Linked DNA regions of Homo sapiens. The protein of the gene in region 1 purifies or fractionates together with the protein of each later gene. This does not show direct contact. Each region holds a gene or a part of one and is shown in the gene's direction. Other genes may lie near its edges.

Region 1 (5,339 bases):
GGAAAATGTGTTAAAGTTGTGTTAACAGGCTTCCTTCTTGTCTGTGTCCCATTCTCATCACAGTCTACCAGTTAGGGATGTTTAGAGAAATTTATCTTGTGGCATTGAAGTGGCTTTATGTGCATTATATATTGGGTTTTATGTATATTGCATACTGTGAAGTAATCATGATACATGCTGACAACAAAAGATGTAGATAAGTTAAAATTTTAGTTGATCCATTGTCTGTTTCTTCTTTGCCATCTTTGTAGAAAAAAATTAATTCAAGATGGACAGCCTATAAAAATGTATCTTTTTCTATTATTATTAATTTAGATATTGGCGTGCCACTTTTGAAGAAGGAAAATACTTAGCTACATTAAAAGATTTGCATTGAAGAAGCAATTGTGATATGCTGCCTTTTATCACAGTGTGACTTCCCATCAGTGCTGAGTAATGAAGTTTCTGATTAATATCTATCGTTGCTTTATCAGAATATCTTTCTCTAAAGTAAATCATTCTTGTGAATAAGAATCTAGCTAGTTGTAATGCAGTTCAGCATAGGTGGAAATAATTTTTTAAGGACTAAGTCAATTTCTGGGATTCAGACTGTTTCAGAAAAGAAACATTTTCTGTATTTCCACTAATGGCACAGTGTACCTTAGTATGTTTGGGTTAGTATTCAGTTTTAGCAATAATCATGGAGGCAGGGGTATCTATAAATATTATATCCCAATTTGCAAGGTAGCAAAGTTGTATATATACTACATAATATGACCACTTGACAGTTTATGAAGTCTTTTCATATATGCCATTTAATTGATTCATATAATAATCTTATGTGTAAACATAAAGGTGTACTACTATCTTCATTTCAAGTATCCTTGAAAAGACTTTCTCCATTGAATTGCCTTTGTACCTTTGTCAAAAATCAACTGACCAGCCTTATAGCACGTTAAGAAGTAACTTATATGATGTTATTAACACAAAGGATGGGGGAAGGAATGAAGCTATATTGGAGTAAACAATGACACCAGACAGTTATGTGAAGAAATGAAGAATACCAGGAATATTAAATATGTGAATGTAAAAGACCCTAATATATTTTCCTTTCTCCTCTTAACTTTATAAAAAGAAAATTATTTAAAGTAATAATTACAACACTATATTACTGGGTTTAAATATATAAACATATATGACAATAATAGCATAAAGGTGGAGGAAAGGAATAAAGCTCTATTGGAGCAATTTCTATATTTTTTAGAATCAAGTTAGTATTAAGCTGAGAGAAATTGTGATAAACTAAGACGCAATAGTAATCTCTAGAGTCATCACTACGAAACTCAAGAAACTATAGTAAAAAAAAATACATTAATTAAAATGGTGTACTAGAAAATACCTATTTAATAGAAAAGAAGGTGATAAAGGAGGGTGAGAGGAAGTAAAAAGACATGTGATATATAGAAAACAAATAGCTAAATGGCAGGCATGAATCCAACCATACCAATGTTAATTTTAAATTTGAATAAACACTCAAAAGGGCAGAGATTGTCAGATTGGATATAAAAACAAGATCCAACTATATGCTATCTACAAAAGATACACTTCAGATTCAGAGACAACAATTTTGGAAAACTGTCAACTATTTCTATACCATTCTCTTTCCTTTCCTTCTGTGATTCCAATTATGTGTAATGTTGAACTTATTTGATACTATACCAGAAGACTCTGATGTTATTTTTTAAAATTATTTTTTCTCTTTTTACTTCAGTTTGGTTTCTTGTGACCTGTTTTCAAGTTTTCTAGTGCTTTCTTCTGTCACATCTCATCTAATTGAGTGACCGCAACTCCTAAGTATATTGTGACTTTATTTTCAGGATAAGGGAGATCTTGAAGGCATCTCGAAAGTTGCAAGGTGATCCAGATTTGCCGATGTCTTTTACTTTGGCCATAGTGGAGTCTGATTCTACAATAGTCTATTATAAACTTACTGATGGATTTATGCTGCCAGACCCTCAGGTCAGTTTTGAGGTAACTGACAGCAAGAAGTACAAAAAGAGGAAAATTATGACGTGATTTTAAGTGTGACTCAAGTCAGTCACAGAACTGCCACTTCCTTTGCCATAGGGAAAATTCAAGAAAAAAAGTCTTGATTTTCAGACGTCAGAAAATTGGTTATATTTTGTTCAAAGTAGCATGTTCCTAGTTATTTTTGCAAAAAAAAAATTGATTTCCTTACTCTTTGGAGAATTTCATGGTTTTCCAAAGTATTTTATGAAGTCATCATGCATTTAATTATTTAGTGAGTAGCTGAGGTGGAATGTAAAGGCTAATAATAGTTGTAAGTAAAAAAACGCTTATTTAAGAAATGTTAAATTGGTTGACATTTTGACAGGAACATTTTAATAAGATAAATGTGCTATATGTGATTTCTTTACATACTTTGTTGGTATAATTTGGATAATTACATTAAATATCTTTCTAATTTTGCTTTTGGATTACATTGTTTATCGGAGAAAAGTCCATCCTGATCTTTTTTTTTTCCAGAATATTTCTCTTAGAAGATGACATCCATGTTTCCTGATGCTTGTTTTATTCATACAAGATTGGATTTGAGACCCATCAGACTGCTTCATCTTTTATCTCAGAAATAGGGTTGACGTACATAGTGAGGGTTGACTTCCCCATTCCATAAGGTTTTCATTCTGAAGAGTAAAACTTCCCCAGGTAGAAGACTTTCTCCTTCTTAAAAAATATAGGGTGATTTCTTTAAAACTTTGTTATCTAGAGACAGTTTAATTACAGTTATATACAGGTTTATGCCTAGGATGTATTCAGATGGGTGGGACCTGTGTGCTGCTTTTGTCATCCCACACTCAAAGTTGTCTCTTTGTTTCTTGCTGCCACTGCCAGCTCATTGTTGAGACTGCCATTTCTTTCTCTTACTCAGCTCTCCCCAGTGCCTTTTGGCCACTGCAGCTACCGTAGAATGGCATTTTATATGTACCTTGTCACCCACTTCTGTTTACTTTTTCCTCTCCAGTAAAAAGTAAAAGATTTCTTTCAATTGGTCTTCCCATTGCAGTTACTGTTATTTCTCTTTTTTGGTTAACTTTAAATCAAAACTCAAAATATGTTCATCCAGAGTGTGTCTTAAGTAACTTACGTGTCTTAAGTAACAGGGACCAGAGACATGTTACCTACAAGAGTTCTGGGCTATCCTTTTCATTCTTATCACATATCATAGCTTGAATATTACAACAGTGTGGGAGAGAATCAACCGTAAAAATGTCTTCATTAATTAGACCCAGTTATTCCACTTTTGTTAATGTCTCTCAAATTGTACAAAGTATAAAAAATTATATGCACAAAGATGTTCCAAGTGACATTACTTTTAGTAGCCCAAATTATAAACCACTTTAAAGTTTGGGGTAAAGATTGGCAAACTTTTTCTATAAAGGGCCAGAAAGTAACTATTTTAGGTTTTTAAACCTACTGTCTCTGTCATAACTTGTCAACACTGCTGTATGAAGCACAAAAGCAGCCATAGACAATACATAAACAATACGGGCGTGGCTTTGTTCCAGTAAAACTTTGTTTACAAATGTGGTGCCATAGTTTGTCATCCCTGGGTCTAGGAAATAGTCAATAAACAGATATATACAAATGATACATAATGTACTTATTAAAAATTAGTAATGAATATTATTAAAAACATGAAAATATTACCTTAAGTAAAAATTGCAAGACGGAAAAGTGTATAAGTGGGTGTAATCATGGCTGAAATAACAGACCAAGCATATGATAAAAAGATAACAAAGTAAATCAAATTACTAACTGGTTATAGTGGGATAGGAGGCAGAAAATGGATGACTTTGTCTTTTCTCAATGTTTTTATTTGTATTTTATAATAAAAATGTTTTAAAATTAAAAGGTGTCTTGAAATCTGTATTAGTTATCTATCATTGCAAAATAATATTACCACAAATGTAGCAACTTAAAACAGCACACATTTATTATCTTATAGTTTTTGTGGGCAAGGGACCCGGGCACAGATTAGTTGGGTCCTCCATGAGGCTACAGTCAAGGTGTTGGGCAGGGCTCCAGTCTCATCTGAGACTTGACTGGGGAAGGGTCAGCTTTTTCACCCACATGGTTATTAGTAGCCTTCAATTTCTTGAGAGTGCTCAATGCTTATATGCCATTGGCAGGAGGCCACCCTCAGCTCTTTGCCACGTGGGCCTTCTCAATATAACTGGTTGCTTCCTCAAAGCCAGCAAAGGAGAGTCTCAGCAAGATGGACCTTATAATCCTTATATAATGTAATCACATACATCCCATCACCTTTGCCGTATTCTGTTGATTGGAAGCAGGTCATAGGTCCTGCCTACACACTAGGGTTTCATGGCTGATTAGGAAACAACAATAACAAGAATGGAAAAATGATGAAAATTAGGAACATCACAAAATAGTATAAAGCATCATTCTTCATCTGTAGTCATTCCTGACTCCTTCCTTTGATGGTATTTGAATTTCACTTTTATTCTTGGTGGGAGGTCTCCATAACTCCTTCAGGCTCCCTCTGCTTCCCCAGAGGACATGAAGATGGACCTATTCAGAACAATATGTGTTTGGGTGACTCTAGTGGAAAATTTGCAGGTCTAAGAATCCTCAAACAGTTTATGATAAATTCTTAGGGTCTCTTGATTTCTTAAGTCTCTCGTTTGATTCATTTTGAGGTCTTTCATTATAATTCTAGAAAAATAGCATTTTCAGAAAGAAGTGTAAGGATAATGTCAGATTTGTGTGTCGGATCTGTTGACCAGTGGGCTCCTATATAACTACAAAACCAGAAGTGTCTTTTGGGGTTGGCTGTGAAAGGCGCTTTCCCAACTCTTTAAACTAGGATTGAATCCTGCTGTATGTCTTGGGATGTTTACTCTATTTCAGAATGTTCCCTGTGTACTTCACCAAAGTTGTTCTGTCCAAAGCCAGCCAGACACATCCTAACATGAATAATGGCCCAGAACTTTTTGGAAAGGGAGGCCACCCAGCTGTGTATGTCTCATTTTAATGAAAAACTAGATAAAGTGATTTAAGTAATTTTGTAAGTGAGTTTACATTTGTCTCCCTGTTAGACTGGGCTCCTTAAGAACAGAACAAGAAATGTATTTTTTAATACATCTCTGTATCTTGCCTCTTTGCACAGTAACTCACATATAGTAAACCCTCAGTAAATACTTGGCAAATGAATGAATGCTGATTATAGCCGTGTCTGATTATATAATGGCTTATTTTTTCCCTCAAGGCAAACTAAAACAATTCATTTGGACACCAGAGGGCACTGCTAGATAACCACA
Region 2 (2,267 bases), on another chromosome or scaffold:
GAAATGAAAACTGTTTGTGATCTTCCGTATTCACTGAAAAATAAATGCTTGTTTAGTATCAAATTTTATTTCACGAAAGTTTTTTTAAAGAACAGAAACTTTTCCAATTAAAAAAAAAAAGCAGACTTCTGGTTCAAGATAGCTCACTGGAATACATGTTTACCTCTTTCTTTCCTAAATTGCATTGAATTGATAGGAAGGATGGCGGAATCTTAAAGTGATACATGCTAACTGTAGAAAAAAATAGAAAATGCACATAAGCAAAAGGAAACATTTAAATGCTATCTTTCAAAGATAACTACTCTTAAAACCTTGAGTATCTTTTCAGACCTTTTTCTTGGCAAATGAATCCATATTGACATATTTGATTTTTTTAAAAACATGGAAACGTACTGTTTTGTAAATTCTTTTTAACTGCACATCTACTGTTCATAAATATACCTCTGTAACATAACTTTTTGTGGTTCTAATGTACTCTGTTGTATAGCTAATACAAGTTAGGATGCTTTTGGCCAGAGGTAACAGTGTCCAAATATAATTGGCCTAAGTAACCTAGGAAATTGTTTGACATAACACAGGGTTCAGGGGTGTCATTAAAGACACACTTTTTTTGCCTTGACCTCAGTTGGTTTGTTTTGCCTTAGGCTATTCCACCTCTCGATCACAAGAGCTGCTGCTATAACTTCCAGTTTTACATCTTTGTAAAATTGTATCTCAAAGGCAGAAAAGGCCATTTCGTCTCTCATTTGTTTTATCCATGAGGAAGATTTTTAACAAAAGCCTCCAGAAGATTTCCCCTCAGTTTCCATTGACTTAGATCAGGTTACAGAGAAAGGCAATGTCTGACATTTTTGGTCTCTGTTAGAAGTAGACTCTGTTGAAAAGAAAGAAGCTAAGCTAGGTGTGAAGAATGGAATTGGAAGCCCACTGCCTTCCCATAAGAAAGGTTTACCATAATTTACTCACTTTTTTCTGTGTTAGACATTTTGATTATCTGCAGTTTATTACTACAAGCAGTGGCAGAGTGAATGTCCTTGTACATTTTGAGTTACATGCTTAATTATGTCCTTGAGAAAGTTTCTAAAAGTGGAATGATTGGTTTGACTGGTTCATAGGGCTTTAATTATACAATTTACCCCTCTAATTAGTACTATATGTATGTGACTTCCCTCCCCCTGCCAGAATACTCCTTGGTCAATTGTAGGTATTCTTTTTGGTTTAATTTTTGCCAATGTAATTAAAAAATGGTATGTCATTTTTAAAATTTGTATTTCTTTCATTACAAATAAGATTGTTATGTCAGTATTGTTATTGGCTTTTCGTATTCCTCTTAACGTGAACCGTCTGTTCATTGTTTTTACCTGTTTTCGTTTTAGCAAGTAGTACTTAATTTAAAGTGTGAACTTAATATATAAGATGCCAGGACCATCATATTGATGACAAAAATCTATTATGTGGTTGTAGTGCATGTCTTGGAGTTAAACTCTTAAGTATCAAGAAGTAAAATAATTTCATTGTTTCTGTTACTAACATTAAAAGTGTGCAAATTGTATAAAATTAGGTACTTCGATTAGTAAAAGAAAAAAATTTGAATGTTTTTTTTTTTTATTTTATTAAGCATGCCCAGTTATGCCAAGCATAGTAAATAAAGGTCAAGTAGCATTTATAATAGAGGAAGTATTGTTATCCCTAGCATGAGTGTAATGGTGATATGAAAAACTTTGTCTTGTCATTATAATAATAAAAAAATGAACATTTATTATGGAATTTCTATGAGCCTGACACTGTGTTGGATTTGTGTTTTTTAGTTTTTAGTTTTTCTATTACTTTTAATCAAAGTTTCATGTGTACACAGCTTTAAAAAATTGGATAGATCTGTAAGATTTTTTTCCTAAGGAAAAAGGCCATTACTCTGACTTCTTCCATTTCCTGTCTCCAGGGCAAGCCCTTTCAACTCTTTTAGATGTTATTTTTTTTGTTATTTATTACCATGTCTCCAAATGACATGCTTATATTGCTTTTACTTGATTTTTTAATTTTAGGCATTGTTTCTTTGATTTTCAAAATAAAGCTTCCCTCTTCTGCTTCCCAGCATTACACATTCCCTTTTTATCCCCTTTTCTCCTCCCAACATAACAATTCAATGTTTACATTGTTGACTGTGATTACACTAAGGATATGTGTACATTATTGAGATTATGTAACTGCTGTATACAGCTGAGTGATGTATTATCCTTACCATATACTAATTTCTTATTTCCTTTAGT

The links. The genes of interacting proteins can lie anywhere in the genome.
Region 2: the proteins of TSEN15 (region 1) and AASDHPPT purify together in Homo sapiens (co-immunoprecipitation; 2 studies listed by BioGRID and IntAct, with this or other methods). This does not show direct contact.

What each region holds. Positions count from the first base shown.
Region 1 is NC_000001.11:184,070,301-184,075,639, forward strand, and holds the end of TSEN15 (tRNA-splicing endonuclease subunit Sen15), read left to right. Parts: intron 1-315; exon of another isoform or gene 316-432; intron 433-1,856; coding exon 1,857-1,998; coding exon of another isoform or gene 1,999-2,010; intron 2,011-2,526; coding exon 2,527-2,547; coding exon of another isoform or gene 2,548-2,563; 3' UTR 2,564-3,912; downstream 3,913-5,339. UniProt on the Homo sapiens protein: Non-catalytic subunit of the tRNA-splicing endonuclease complex, a complex responsible for identification and cleavage of the splice sites in pre-tRNA. It cleaves pre-tRNA at the 5' and 3' splice sites to release the intron.
Region 2 is NC_000011.10:106,096,929-106,099,195, forward strand, and holds the end of AASDHPPT (L-aminoadipate-semialdehyde dehydrogenase-phosphopantetheinyl transferase), read left to right. Parts: 3' UTR 1-1,767; downstream 1,768-2,267. UniProt on the Homo sapiens protein: Catalyzes the post-translational modification of target proteins by phosphopantetheine.